4 linked regions of the Homo sapiens genome follow. The protein of the gene in region 3 purifies or fractionates together with the protein of the main gene of each other region. This does not show direct contact. Each region holds a gene or a part of one and is shown on either strand. Other genes may lie near its edges.

Region 1 (3,326 bases), on a different chromosome or scaffold from region 3:
CCCTAACATTGCCTTGAGCCCAGAGGCAGTTGTCAAAGAATGAGGACTCATGGGAAGCCTCCTGGAGGCTCGCTGACTTGGGAGCTCAAGTAGGGTAGCTGTGCTTCCTTCATCTCCCCTCCAGCAGGGATGGCACCCAGGGGGCCAGGGCAGGAACTCAGGTTTCCTCAGCCCACAAATCCCCTGGAAAAAACATGACAGGCAGGCCGCATGTGCTTTTGTCAGGTTCCTCCCTGAACCCACCCATGAGCTGCAGGCCTACCTCTCCCTCAGCAGAATCCTGGAGCTACCATTCTCAGCAAGCCTGAGCTCCCTTAGTGCCTGGGAGCTGTCAGTCTGGGAGGCTTCATGGAGGAAGCGAGACTTGGGTCAGGGAGGGCAGTGACTAAGGGGCACTTTGGAAGGGCCCAGTAAGGGCTGGGGTGCGGAGACCCAGGGGTGGTGGCATCAGAGCTGAGCCTCAAAGGACCCAGAAGCCTGGGATGTTTAAAACCTGCCCATTATGGGGTCTAGCGAACAGCTTCTTTTATTCTTGTTTGAAAGTATTTTTCTGCTTACAAAAGTAACTTATACTTGATCTAAAAAAAAAAAAAAAAAGAAAAGAAATCACACAATGTTAAAAGCAAAGATTCACCCATTTGGCCCCAGAAGCCCTGCGGACAGAGAAGAGCCTATGGCTGGGTTGGTGGCCTGGGAGGATGCGCCTGTTGTCAAGGTTACAGGGACTTGCCGGGCGCCACAGAGCAGGGGGCAAAGTTCTCCCCAGCAGCCTCAGGAGGCCCCGCTGCTAATCCACTGTCTTCTGTTCTGTCTGTGCCTGCGAGAGAAGAGGGTGGATCAGGCTGGTGTCAATGGAGATGGGAGGGCTCAGCTTGGCTGTTGGGGGTCTACCAGGCCTCACTCTCACCCCAACCAGTGGATGCTCCAGGGCCAGAAGCCTCTGCCTGACTGAGAAGTGACTGCCACTCAGGGACGCTGCTCCCAAGGCCACCAGGCCAGGGCCACAAAAGCTGCTAAAGTCATTTCCAGGAAACTTGAGGCCAAGTTTGTGCTGAGCACTGGGAAGCCGCAGCCATCGCCTCTGCTGGACCTGGGGTGGGGATGGAAGGATGGAGGAGTTGGCAGATGGGGGTGGTCGATGCCTGAGGGTGATTGCCTGCGGGACCCCTGGCGCCTGATGGAGCCCTGCTCTGCCTTTCATCTGGCGAAGATGGCTGTGCTCCAATTCTCACAAAGGCACCACGGCCCCAGGCCTAGATGGATCCCAGCAGTGAGCAGGAGTCTCAAAGGGGCTGGGAGGACCTTGAGATGGTCTCATTCCACAGAGCTCAGGTGTAACAGATCCTGAGCCAGACTCCAACCCCCTCTGCCCTCTGCAGGGACCTCCTGGTGGCCTCAGAGTGGCGACTTCGCTCCTCTGAGCCCTGCCTCCCACAGGCCATGGGGACTGCATCCTCTGCCCAAGGTTGGCAGGAGAAGCCAGGGGGACAGGCAGAGGCTCTCAGAGCAGGACTGGATGGTGGGGGCTTCGCAGTAAGAGCCAGGCACTCCCACCGGCTCTGGGAGGACGGGGTCCCTCTGAGTCCCAGAGCACTGCTCACACCAGGCCTGAGACTCCAGCAGAGGGATGGAGGCCGAGGGGTCCATTAGGTTCCTTGAAAGCTCCAAGCCTGTGGCTGCGGACACCACCATCTCAGGCATTCTGGGGTCTCAGCCCCAGGGAGGCTGTGGGGCTGTGACCCTCTGTGACCTCAGGCCACTCACCCCTCAATTTCCATCAGTGAGGCAGGGTCCCTGCACGGCCAGCAAACTGAAGGAACCTTTTCTCACAATGGGCTGCCAGGCTGAGTGCCCTGGCTGACCCCAGGGGACCACCTGTTCTGGCTGACCCCAGGGGACCACCTGTTCAGAGGTCACAAGCCAAGGCCACCTGCTACGCCTCTTCTTCTCAGGGCACGGCAGAGCCCACTCCCAGTTGGGAAGAAACCCCAACTCACCTTCTTCCCACCCACTGGGCAGCCCCCTGCCCCATCTCCCTGGAACTTCCAGTTCAAAAGGTGTACCCAGCCCATTTCCTCTGCTGCCTAGGGCCCTGCCCCCACCGCTGCCTGCCCTGGTAGAGCCCAGAGGCAGGACCTGCTGTGGGGCCAGGAGGGGACCTGTCCTCCTGCAGGGGACAGCAGGGCATGGCCTGGGCCACCTCAGGGAGAGCTGGGTGCAGGGAAAGGGGCAGCCCTGCTCTCATCCCATCTCTGCTACCATGGCCCACCTGACTATGTTCCCCAAGTCTAGCTGAAAGGTCTAGTACACAGCAGGGGCAGAGCCAAGGGCCCTGGGGAGTGGGAGCAGGGACTGAAGATGCTCAGTGCCTCCATCCATCCCATCACTCCCACAGCAAAGCACAGGGAATGAACCTGCCCCATCACCTCCAGCCAGCCCGCAGCAGCTAGGGCCACACCCCCAGCCCCACTCTCCCATGGGACCTGTGAGCCCTGAGCTGTATCTCCCCGGAGGCTTGGTGGGGGGTGATTGTGCAGAGGAGGTAGGGAGAGCAGGGGCAGTCCCGGAGAGCCAGGCTGAGGTCACTGCCTTAGTCTGCTGGGAGTCTCATCCTGCGTGACTCGAGTCTCCAGAGCCCAGCCTGCACACAGCTGCTGTTCAGTGGATGTTACTAAGTGACTGAACGGTGAGTGAGACCAAAGAAGCTTTCTAGAACATATGGAAAGGTGACCCATCAAGCCCCCGGTCTTAGAGACCCTCATCGAACAGCTGCGAGCCAAGACCTTGAAGCTGACGGCAGCTGCCTGTGGGCCCCGCCGCACCCTCAGACCCTCCCTTGTGAAGGAGCCAGTAGGCAGCGCATTCCAGAGTGGGGAACAGACACAGAGAGGCAAGGCCGCTCAGAGGCAGGGTTGGAGGTCGGCGGATGCCCAGGCCTGTGCCCTAACCCCTGTGCCACTGCTCTCCACACGTGGTCAAAGTCAGGGAACAAGGACCCGCATGCCAGGGAGAAGCGCCTGATGGAGCCAGCGCGGCTGTGGGGGCCACCCTGGGAGGTGCCGAGCTGTCCTGGGGGGCCGCTGTGGAGCCTCACCTGGGTCCTGCCTGCTCCGTTTCTGCTCAGGCTCCTGAGGGGCTGCCTCAATGGCCCGCTGGGCCTCGGGGTGGGTCTGGAGGAGGGCCTTGGCAAGGGTGGCGGGGCCGGGCACCCCCAGGGACATGACACAGTGCACACCCTTGCGCTTGGCCCCCGCCACCTTGGTGCTGTCTTTGGAGGCTGTGAGCAGGACCAGTTTGGAGAACTTTCTGGGCTTCCTGGGGGCTGC
Region 2 (4,132 bases), on a different chromosome or scaffold from region 3:
AGTGAAACTCTGTCTCAAAAAAAAAAAAAAAGAAAAAAAATCTATCTATCTATATACATAGATACACACATATATACACATATATACATATATACACACATATCTATACACACATATATGTATATATACACACATATATGTATATATACACACATATATGTATATATACACACATATATGTATATATACACACATATATAAAGTTCAAATTGGGAGGTCTAAGGCAGGAATATGCCTCCATCTGCAAAATAAAAATAAATTTAAAAATCCATATTTGCTCTGCCAAAAATAAAAATTATATGAAATAAACATAAGCACTGCTGAGTTTCAAACACAAGAAAATGCAGTATGTGCACTTACAAAAGAATCTTGGTTTATGTCCACCTTCCTTTCCTAAGTTTTTATTTTTTTAAGGCAAAATGTCAATTACATGCCTCAATCTAGAAAAAAAAAAAAGGATAGCTTATTCTTCTTAAACAGATGTTGTGATAGACACGAAAAATTTGTGAGAGGATTTCAAAATCCAGAGGCCCAGATGTGTGGAGAAACAACAAAAAAAAAACTACAGTAACCAATCGACCACAATTACTTATTATTTTTCTAAAAAAAAACTTAGTAAAACATTTTAAGTTGAGAAAACTCGTGAAAAATGTAAAAGTAGCAAACTTCTCTTCCTCTCTATAGCACAGAAAACTATTCACTAACACTGTATCAATAATATCCTTTAAATCCAAAGCATTACAAATTAGATTAAATAAAGCACTTTGAATAAATTCACACACCGTGTGTGATCAGGACATAATGACAAACTAGTCTATTTCCTAATAAGCTAAACAGATCTCAACACTATCATCTTTATTTCAAAATAATTATTAAAGAGAAAAGTACTACTCCATTTTTCAGAAAATAAAAGCAGGAGTGATTGACCTGCCTAATTCTTTCTAACGGAAAGGGTATACTTTACGAGTCCCACAAACCAGGTACACACAAAATCCATATACATAATCACCGGGACTAAACGTACAGTAGGTGATAGACACCAAAACACAAATAAAATTAAGACATCCAAGTAAAGTTACGCAAGAAAATTTGAATAGGCAAACTATAATTATCCCTGGTGAAGATACTGATCAAGAATAGCTGCAAGTAACATTTGGCTCTTAGTTAAGTACCACTATGTTTGAGTATGTTGGAGCAACTGAAAAGATTGGTACATTCAACATATTTTTCCTTTCTAAATCTAGCCCTGCCCATAGACCCACTGACTGAGTGATACATTTGGAAAACAAAGATGGCCCCATCAAATTACTCAGTTTCAGCCTTACTCTTACCAGTTGATTAAAATAAAGAAGGAAAAAAAGGAAATCATTTTTAACTGCAGTCTCACCTTACACATCTCACCAGCACTGTAGTTCATTAGTGATCCATTACTTCATCCAAATCCTGAGGCAAATAGAAAAGATGTTTCCATACAACACCAGTAACAGACATTATCAGTAGCAAACATTTTATCAGCCTGAAGTGAAAGGGCATCTACATTTAAAATGGAAAAAGTTACAAAAATGGTACAGTGTGCAGCTTTGCAAATGAGTCTGGTTTTTGACCTTAAAACATTTCCTTTCAGTAAGGTAAAAGAATAGATTATACAATGCTCTTAAAACTCAAAAACATAATAAAATCATCTTTTTCAACACAGACTGACCTTACTTTCAAAAACATAAAGAAATGAAGGAGAGGAAATTTCATTAATATGAGTTTAAGAGAGAGCAAAATTAAGAACAAACTAGGCAAGACAGACAACTCCTCCCTCCTTCCCCCGCTCCAGGAATCCACTGTCTCTGAAGTTACACTTTTTATTATATTAATGATTTGCCTGAGAAGTGTTAAGTTGTGAGGGAGAAGGAATGACAATTTTTGAACTGCAAACAAAACCTGAGGATCCCGATCCAAGAACAATCAGAGGACCCTGGCTTCCAGCCCTGTCTGAAGATTTCTCAGCAAAGGCGAGGGTGCAGAAGGCTCCAATAATTTAGGGGAGAGGAATCGAAGTTCCCTAGGTAAGACTGCAGTCTGTGAGCCCTTGAAAAGGGTACTGGAGTACTCTCAAGGAATCTCCAGGAAAAGAGAGCCTATCTTTATTTTTGTTGATGTGCTTGTGGGCCAAAGAGCATTTCCGAGGAGGGGGCGGGGAAAGGGGGGAAGAAAGTGAATCTCGGGCCGAGAGCCCTCCGCGGGGGAGGGAGGGGGCGCACGCCTGACCCACTTTTCCCCACGCCCCCGCTCCAGCCCCCACCCCACCCGGTGGAAGTCCGAGGCCTGAGGGGGGGCATCGAGCGGGGCGTGGGAGGCCCGCACGCTCCCCACCCCCAGCCGCGACCCGGAGGAGGGGAACGTGCCGGGAGGCTCGAGTCCCCCTCCCAGAGTGCTCTGGGCCGGAGAAACCTCCCGCAGGCTCCCGGGCCAGGCGTGCAAGGCCCCCTCTCCTGCCAGGGCCCAGGACGCTGCGGGCCCCAGCGGAGGGGAAGGGGACTAAGTAGGGGAAGAAGCTGTAAACAGCCCCAGCGTCCGGGCCTCGCCTCGAAGAGCCGCGCTTCCCAGGCCCAGCCGCGGGCCGCCCAGGCCCCCAGCCTGCCCCGGGGCCGCCGCGCCCGGGGTCCGGGACACCGGAGGGGAGTCGGGTCCCCTCCCCGGAGAGCTCCGGGAGCTCGCGGAGCGGCCCCAGGAGCAGAGAAGGGGGAAGTCAGGACTTACCTGTCATTACTTTCTACGCCATCTTGGATCCACTTGTCAACGTCCCCACAAAGCATTATGGGTAAGAAAGAGCCTTTAAAGTGACTCCCCCCGGCCCCCGACTCCCGCCTCCCGCCGCCGGCGCCGCCCCCTCCGGCCGCGCCTCCCGCCCGGAAAGTTGCCCCGGGTGGACTGCCGACCCCGGCGCCCGCAGCTGGCCCCTTCCCCTCCCCCGGGCTGACGGCATTGAAAATTCACCCGCATTTTTAAAACGTGGCTTTGGGGTTTTCTCCCTTTCTCCTGCCCCGGCCTCCCTGCCCCCACGCCCGGTCCTCTCGCCTCGCCGCGTTCCTGCCCGGGCAGACGCCCCGCGTCTGCATTGAATCAACCCGAGGTTTCCTTGCCGCCCGCGGCGCGGCGCGGAGCTGCTCGCGGATTTATTTGTGCGCGTGGATGTGAGCGTTTCTGCTCCTGCGGCCGCGCTTCCAGGAAGCCCGCGAGCGGCCGGGGTCGCCTTCAGAGGCCGCGCAGACCAGCTCCGCACCCGCCGCCCGGAGAGGTGCCTCTGCCCTGGGAAACCGCCCCGGGGCCGTTGGGCTCCGGGAACTGGGAGGACGCCGTGTCCCCGAGTCCACCAGCGTCGAAGCACGATTTAAAAAAAAAAATTGAGCCAAATGCAACTTTTTACCCCTTGTTTACTCTGTGTCCCGCGGTCTCCTCCTCCGGGCGGGTAACGTGATCCGCGACCCTCTAGGTGGGGACCCCTCCCCTAGGAATGTGGCTCCAGGCTCCGCGGAGCCACCCTGGGAGCGTCCGGGCTGCGGACTGTGACTCCGGGGCAGGTAATCCGGGGCGCCGGCTGCGGGCTCCGGGCGGGGCGGGGCGCGGAGGCAGCCAGGGCTCGGGGGAGGGTCCCGGGCGGAAAGCAGGGTGCGCCAGTCCGGGTCCACCTGGCGGGTCGGGGGAGAACCGCGGGCGCCGCTGCAGCTCGGGAGGCTGGAGGTGGGGACGCCCGGCGTCTCCGGGCTGCGACCCGCTGCGCTGGAAAGTGTGGGGCGCCTTGGCGCGGGCTGAGGTCTCTGACCCGGGCGAGTACCCCCAGCCCGCCGGCCACACTGCTGCCGGGCATCCTCTCCCCGCGACACCACGCCCGCTTTCGGCTGCGCGGGGCGAGCAGCGTACTGACCCCGGCGTCCAGCCGCCCAGGTCCCCCCAGCAACGGAGGCCCCTTGGTCAGCCTCCTCCCGCGCTCTCCGCAGAGCCTCTGGTCCCTGCTTTGCTGTCTTTGGAGGCCTGCTCCAGTTGCTTTTTTTTTTTTCCAAGCAAGTTTTTACAACAAGGAGATACCCAAAAGAAAATTCTCCAAGACAGGAATGCTTGCGAATTGTATTCGGTACAAAAT
Region 3 (3,500 bases):
ATAATATGATAATTATATATACTTACTTTTTGGCTGTAAATGCTTCCTAAGCCTGGATCATTAAAATTATGCTAAACTTTATAAACTTCTTATTTCTAGAAGTGAAATAATAATTCAACTTAAAAAAAATCTGGCCTAATGACAACTTCAGTGGATGGATCACATTACCTTGATGCATTCTTATCAATGTAAGTATTGACATGAAACAGAACAATTCTTCTCCCATGAAACAGTCTATCTGTTGATGCAATTATGTCAAGAGCAATCCCTTAAAAGCAAGTTCTAAAACCTCAACAAATGAAGCAGCCATTATTAAAGTCAGAGGAGTTGAGCAAAACTCCAATCAGCTGAGGGAAAATAACTCTAAAGTAAAATTTGAAAACCAGTGGAGTTTGCATTTACGGTTGACACTTGAACAACACGGGTTTGAACTACACAAGTTCACTTATACGTGGACTTTCTTCTGCCTCTGCCACTCCTAAAACAGCAAGACCAATCCCTCCTCCTCCTCCTCCTCCTCAGCCTACTCAACATGATGGACAATGAGGATGAAGACCTTTATGATGATCCACTTCCATGTAATGAATAGTAAATATATTTTCCCTTCCCCATGATTTTCGTAACTTACTTTATTGTAAGAATACATATATAACATACATAACATACAAAATATGTGCCAATCGACTGTTTTTGTTGTTGATAAGGCTTCCGGTGAACAGCAGGCTACTAGTAGTTAAGTTTTTGGGAAGTCAAAAGTTATATGTGGGCCGGGCATGGTGACTCACGCCTGTAATACCAGCACTTTGGGAGGTCAAGGCAGGTGAATCACTTGAACTCAAGAGTTTGAGACCAGCCTGTGAAACATCTTGAAACCCCGTCTCTACAAAAAATACTAAAATTAGCTGGGTGTGGTGGTGCACACCTGTGGTCCCAGCTACTTGGGAGACTGAGGTGAGAGGATCGCTTGAGCTTGGGAGGCGGAGGTTGCAGTGAGCCGAGATTGTGCCCCTGCACTCCAGTACAGGTGACAGAGAAAGACCCCGTTTAAAAAAACAAACAAACAAAAAAAGTTGTATGTGGATTTTTCAACTGCATGGGGGTTGACACCCCTAATCCCTGTGTTGTTCAAGGATCTGCTATAATATGAATAACTTAAGCCAGTTCACATTATAAGACTAATACTTACATGCCTTTAAGTTATAAAGTTAGATGCCAATGTTAATCATAAGTATTGGAGCTTTGTTATAAAGTGAAAAGCAAAACAATTTGACAAGAAAACAAAAGTATGGCACATATAAAATCAGACTAATTTACTAAGAGGAGAACATTTCTTCCAACCAAATCCTCAAATTCCTTTTGTAAGATTTTAGTAAATGCACCAGGTTTGCCAATGAATAATTCTTGTAAAGTGGTCTACTTACTATTAATGATAACAGCATTAATAGTAAAAAAAAATCAAGGGATTGACCACTCGAATGCATTTTCCATAACTATTTGCCATTCCTAATCCAGTGGTTTGGAAGTACTTTTGGTTAACCAGAAACTGAAATGTAACTACCTATAGAGCCTTCCCTAGTGAGCTGGTAGGAAGGAAGAGAGAAGAGTAGAAGACTGTCGGCATAGCTCCAATCCCGACATGTAGGTAAGACAGATCTTACACGTGTCCAAGGACAAAACTAACTTCCCACCATGTTTAAGCTTACATGAAATCACTGGAAACATAGTAGATATATGCTAATACAGTTTCATCTGGATAAACTGTCCCAGTTATTTTTTTTGTAGTGCCAAGTTAAAAAACAAAAACAACAACAAAAAAGACCTAGCATGGTGCGGTGGCGCACTCCTGTAATCCCAGCAACTCAGGAGGCTGAAGCAGAAGGATTGCGTGAGCCCAGGAGTTTGAGGCTGCAGTGAGCTATGATCACACCAGTGAATAGCCACTGCACTCCAGCCTGGGCAACACAGCGAGACTCCATCTCTTTAAAATAAAGAAAAACAACAACAACGACAAAACTTTTGCATCTTGGGTCTGGGTCCAGATACAATTTTATTCATACACTTAAATTAAATGTAATTTAATGTGATTGGAAATGATAGGAAATGAGGAAATACTTGTCGTACCTCGCCTTTGTACAGTATATCAGAAACTGGGCAAACAACACAGGCTGTACCAGAGCCAAACATCTCTCTCACTCTGTTCCCCTCCAGGGCTGTTGTCAAGTCATCCATGGTGAGGTATCTCTCTGACACCTTAAATTCACCCTGCATGGAATATAAAAAATAACAAGTATATTTTAAAGGAAAAGGCATGCAAAACAATTGCAATACTTACTGTTCTGCTTAACATTCTGATTGCACTTAGACAAGGTCACAATCATCCTTTAAGGGAAAGCTGGAAGTGGCACACCATCTTACTGGTGAACACATCGAGGTGTTAAGTAACCTACTTCAAGGTCACAGATTTATATATGAGATTATCAGAATATAAAATATAAGATTATCACCACAAGACACATGGTATACTTTAACATATGCCTTCTTTTTTGCCTTCTTATTTGTTAACTTGTATAAAGTCTCACAAAATTGATGCATCCCAAATGCTGCTTGATGCATGCTCCGTGTTAACAGTGTCTTAGGCCGGGCACGGTGGCTCATGCCTGTAATCTCTGCATTTGGGGAGGCTGAGGCAGGCAGATTACTTGAGGTCAGGAGTTTGAGACCAGCCTGGCCAACCTGGTAAAACCCTGTCTCTACTAAAAATACAAAAATTAGCCAGGCATGGTGGCGGGTGCCTGTAATCCCAGCTACTCAGGAGGCTGAGGCAGGAGAATCGCTTGAACTCAGGAGGCAGAGGTTGCAGTGAACCAAGATCACGTCACTGCAGTCCAGCCTGGGTGACGGAGTGAGACTCTGTCTCCAAAAACAAAACAAAACAAAAAAATCAGTGTCTTAAAACCTACTTTACCATAAAGGAGAACAATGTATTATATAATATTAATAATTATAGCTACCATTTATCAAGCACCCGCTATTATGCCAAGTTCTGTAATTTTAAGGGTGAGTACTATCATCCCCATTTTACAGATGAGGAAACTAAGGTTCAAGGAGGTTGAAGGGCATCTCCAGGGCCACAAAGGAAGTAAGTGACAGAAACTCAATTTGAACCCAGGTCTGATCTGATTGGCTCCAAATTTGGTACTCTTTCTACGTTTGTCTCTTTCTTTTTTTTTTTTTTTTAAGACAGGGTCTTGCCCTGTCACCCAGGCTGGAATGCAGTGGCATAATCTTGGCTCATTGCAGCCTCGACCTCCCAGGCCCAAGTGATCCTCCTGTCTCAGTCTCCTGAGCACCTGGGACTACAGGTGTATGCTGCCATGCCCAACTAGGTTTTATATTTTATATTTTATTTTGTAAAGATAGGGGTCTCCCTATGTTGCCCAGGCTGGGCTCATGTGATCCTCCCACCTCAGCCTCCCAAAGTGCCAAAGTGCTGGGATTAT
Region 4 (3,500 bases), on a different chromosome or scaffold from region 3:
CTTAAAGGAAATGGACAAGAGAGTGGCAAGAAAGGAGGACCTAAGGAGATGGCAAATTTAAGGCCGGAAGGACGGCTCTATCAGCATGGGAAACTTACACTGCTGCATAATGGAGAACCTCTCTACATTCCAGTAACCCAGGTAGGATGCACTAGTTCTTTCCATTTTAATTTATTTTGTGGTTTATATAACTTCATCCTAGTAGAAGATAGTGCTTTGAGTAAGGAAAATTATCCAAAAAGTCTATGTTTAGGCCAGATGCGGTGGCTTACGCCTGTAATCCCAGCACTTTGGGAGGCTGAGGTGGGCAGATCACCTGAGGTCAGGAGTTCAAGATAAGTCTGGCCAACATGGTGAAACCCTGTCTCTACTAAAAGTACAAAAATTAGCTGGGCACAGTGGCGCACACCTGTAGTTCCAGCTACTGGGGAGGCTGAGGCAGGAGAATCATTTGAACCCAGCAGTGGGAGGTTGCAGTGAGCCGAGATTGCACCACTGCACTCCAGCCTGGGCAACAGAGCAAGACTCTTGTCTCAAAAGAAAAAAAAAGTGTTTATGTTTAAAGATAAAGATATAGACTGTTTAAAGAAACTAAAGGTAAGGATTTCCCAATGACATAGATAAATGTGGTCTTGATTTAATCAAGGACCTTTAAAAGATTGGACAAAGTCTATGTTTAAAGATTAAAGAAATCTAAATAAACTTTTGGGGCTTTTAGGTTTGCCATTTCTGTAATTGAGAAATGTTTTGAAGTTTAAGTAGATCACGTCATCATATATAAGGTGATTTATAAACTGAGCAGTGAATGCTCAGATGTTTAAAAAAGAAAATCCAACTGCACTTATGTATGTTTTTGTTTAACTTGTGGACAAAGACTTATGGATAGGTGCAAAAAATAAATCCTCTTTTGCAACCCAGAACTCATTGTTCAGTATGAGTTTTGATACATATAAGAAGGGATATTATGATACCTGAGACAGTTAACTGATGGGAATATTGATAGCCATAAAGGTTGGTCCCAGACCAGGCACAATGGCTCAAGCCTGCAAGCCCCACACCAAGGTGGGAGTATTGCTTGAAGCCAGGAGTTCAAGACCAGCCTGTATAAGAAAGTAACAAACACCTCATCTCCACAAAAATTTAAAAATTAGCTGAGTATTGGGGCATGTGTCTGTAGTTGCAGCTACTCAGGAAGAGGAGGCTGAGGCAAGAGTATTGAGCCCAGGAGTTGGAGGCTGCACTGAGCTTTGATGACACCACTGTACTCCAGCCTGGGTAACAAAGACAGACCCTGTCTCTTAATTAAAAAAGATTGATTCTAGGACTGTGGAAGAGATAGTTAAACAGCATGGGATATGAAGGAAATCCTCAGCAGTATTAATTTTGCATTCCAATTTCATGTTGACTTGATACCTACGATGGCTTTTTGTTTTAAAGGCTTTTATCTTGAGAACATGATGTCTGTAGTTAAAGGTATTGGCGTATTCCACACATCTGTACTATTCTTGAGTATGATCGCTTAGGGTGTCAAATTGAGAACCAGGCAGATCCACCACCTACAGTAAAAAGGACCCTAAAGTAAATTGGTTGAAGAAGTTAGATCCCAAAGATTCTTGGTGAATTTTGAAGTCTTCATCAGTATATCCATATTAAAAGGAGATGACAGAAGCCAAAATAAAAGAATTATGGGCTAACAGGACAGCTGGATTAAAATAAGCATCAGTTTCATTAAAAAGGGCTAACTTGAAGATAAATCTTTTGACTCCAGCTCTTTAGAGGATCTGAAGTGACCTTGATGGACAGTGGAAGAAATCACAACATGGAATTACTTGAACAAAAATTTATTGACTTAAAGAAAAAGAAAAAATCCAAAAATATATAGAGAGAACAAAAGTAAATATCCTTCAATTATATGATTAGCTTTTATCTGTTCAAAAATAGTTTGAAGTCATATACACCATTAGGATGTAGAACAGCAATAACTCAACAACAACAGCAGCAATAGTTGTTTTTAAGGGTTTTGTTTTGTTTTTTTTTTGTTGTTTTTTTTTTGACACAGAGTCTCTCTTTGTCACCCAGGTGGGAGTGCAGTGGCATGACTGTAGCTTACTGCAGCCTTGACCTCCTGGGATCAAGTGATCCTCCCACCGCAGCTTCTCAAGTAGCTGGAACTACAGGTGCATGCCACCATGCCTGGCTAATTTTTCGTGGTTTTTATAGAGGTGGGGTTTTGCCCTGTTGTCCAGGCTTGTCTTAAATTCCTGAACTCAAGCCATCTGCCTGCCTCAGCCTCCCAAAGTGCTAGGATTACAGACATGATCCACTGCACCCGGCCTGAAAACATTCTATTGTGAAAATTGTAATCTAGTAAAAATGAAAGAGGCTCAACGCCTGTAATCCCAACACTTTGGGAGGCCGAGGTGGGGTTGGATTGCTTGAGCCCAGGAATTCAAGACCAGCCTGGGCAACATGGTAAACCCTATTTCTACCAAAAAAAAAAAAAAAAAAATTAGCCGACTGGGGTAGCGTACACCTGTAGTCCCAGCTACTCGGGAGGCTGAGGTAGAAGAATCAATTGAGCCCGGGAGGTTAAGGCTGCAGTGAGCTATGATTGTGTCACTGTTCTCCAGCCTGGGCAACAGAGCAAGACCCTGTCTCAAAAAAATAAAAAGTGAAAGCCACCATCCACTAATTTTGACTTGCATTCCTTGAAGTAACTAACAAGTATTATTGGTTTGGGTTATATTTCTTATAACTGTTTCTCTGCATTGATGTATAATACATATATGTGTGTACATATTAATACATGGTTTTATGGATTTTTTTTTTTTTTTGGAGACAGGATCTCATTCTGTTGCATAGGCTGGAATGCAGTGGCATGATCATGGCTCACTGCAGCCTTGACTTGCTGGGCTCAAGTGATCCTCTGACCTTAGCCTCCTAGGTAGCTGGGACTACAAGTGCTCACCACCATGCCAGGCTGATTTTTTCACTTTTAAAATTTTTGTAAAGATGGAGTCTTGCTATGTTGCCCAAGCTGGTCCTAAACTCCTGACCTCAAGCAATCCTCTGTTTCGGCCTCCCAAAGTGCTGGGATTATAGGCATGAGCCACTGTGCCCAGCCTCAATTTCTTATAAACAATTGGTATTACCAACCATATAAATTTTTGTTAACATGATGGTCAAAAGTAGTATCTCAGTGTTTTAGATTGTATTTTTCTGAATTTTCATGAACCTGAGCATCTTTTAATATGTTCGTTAGCCGTCCTTTCCTGTGAATCGCCTATGATTTTTCTTTTAGGTTGCTCCCCTGTTCTTATTGATTCATATGAATTCTTCATATTTTAGATGTGAATCTACAGTTATATATATTGTATATGTTTTCTGCTAGTCATTTTAAAAACATATGTTCATGTATTTACTTAATTATTGAGTTATAACTTAATACAATAAAGTGTACAGATCTTGGCTGGGCATGGTAGCTCATGCCTGTAATCCCA

What was found. The genes of interacting proteins can lie anywhere in the genome.
Region 1: the proteins of BCAT1 (region 3) and FLYWCH2 purify together in Homo sapiens (affinity purification with mass spectrometry; 3 studies listed by BioGRID and IntAct, with this or other methods). This does not show direct contact.
Region 2: the proteins of BCAT1 (region 3) and HELZ purify together in Homo sapiens (affinity purification with mass spectrometry; 3 studies listed by BioGRID and IntAct, with this or other methods). This does not show direct contact.
Region 4: the proteins of BCAT1 (region 3) and RAB3GAP1 purify together in Homo sapiens (affinity purification with mass spectrometry; 3 studies listed by BioGRID and IntAct, with this or other methods). This does not show direct contact.

The regions. Positions count from the first base shown.
Region 1 is NC_000016.10:2,896,540-2,899,865, reverse strand, and holds the end of FLYWCH2 (FLYWCH family member 2), read right to left. Parts: coding exon 3,095-3,326; intron 1,091-3,094; coding exon of another isoform or gene 1,020-1,090; exon of another isoform or gene 912-1,019; intron 818-911; coding exon 717-817; 3' UTR 501-716; downstream 1-500.
Region 2 is NC_000017.11:67,242,397-67,246,528, forward strand, and holds the start of HELZ (probable helicase with zinc finger domain), read right to left. Parts: upstream 2,801-4,132; 5' UTR 2,752-2,800; exon of another isoform or gene 2,380-2,751; intron 1,444-2,379; 5' UTR 1,388-1,443; intron 1-1,387. UniProt on the Homo sapiens protein: May act as a helicase that plays a role in RNA metabolism in multiple tissues and organs within the developing embryo.
Region 3 is NC_000012.12:24,830,602-24,834,101, forward strand, and holds part of BCAT1 (branched-chain-amino-acid aminotransferase, cytosolic), read right to left. Parts: intron 2,263-3,500; coding exon 2,122-2,262; intron 189-2,121; exon of another isoform or gene 100-188; intron 1-99.
Region 4 is NC_000002.12:135,135,792-135,139,291, forward strand, and holds part of RAB3GAP1 (rab3 GTPase-activating protein catalytic subunit), read left to right. Parts: coding exon 1-141; intron 142-836; exon of another isoform or gene 837-964; intron 965-3,500. UniProt on the Homo sapiens protein: Catalytic subunit of the Rab3 GTPase-activating (Rab3GAP) complex composed of RAB3GAP1 and RAB3GAP2, which has GTPase-activating protein (GAP) activity towards various Rab3 subfamily members (RAB3A, RAB3B, RAB3C and RAB3D), RAB5A and RAB43, and guanine nucleotide exchange factor (GEF) activity towards RAB18.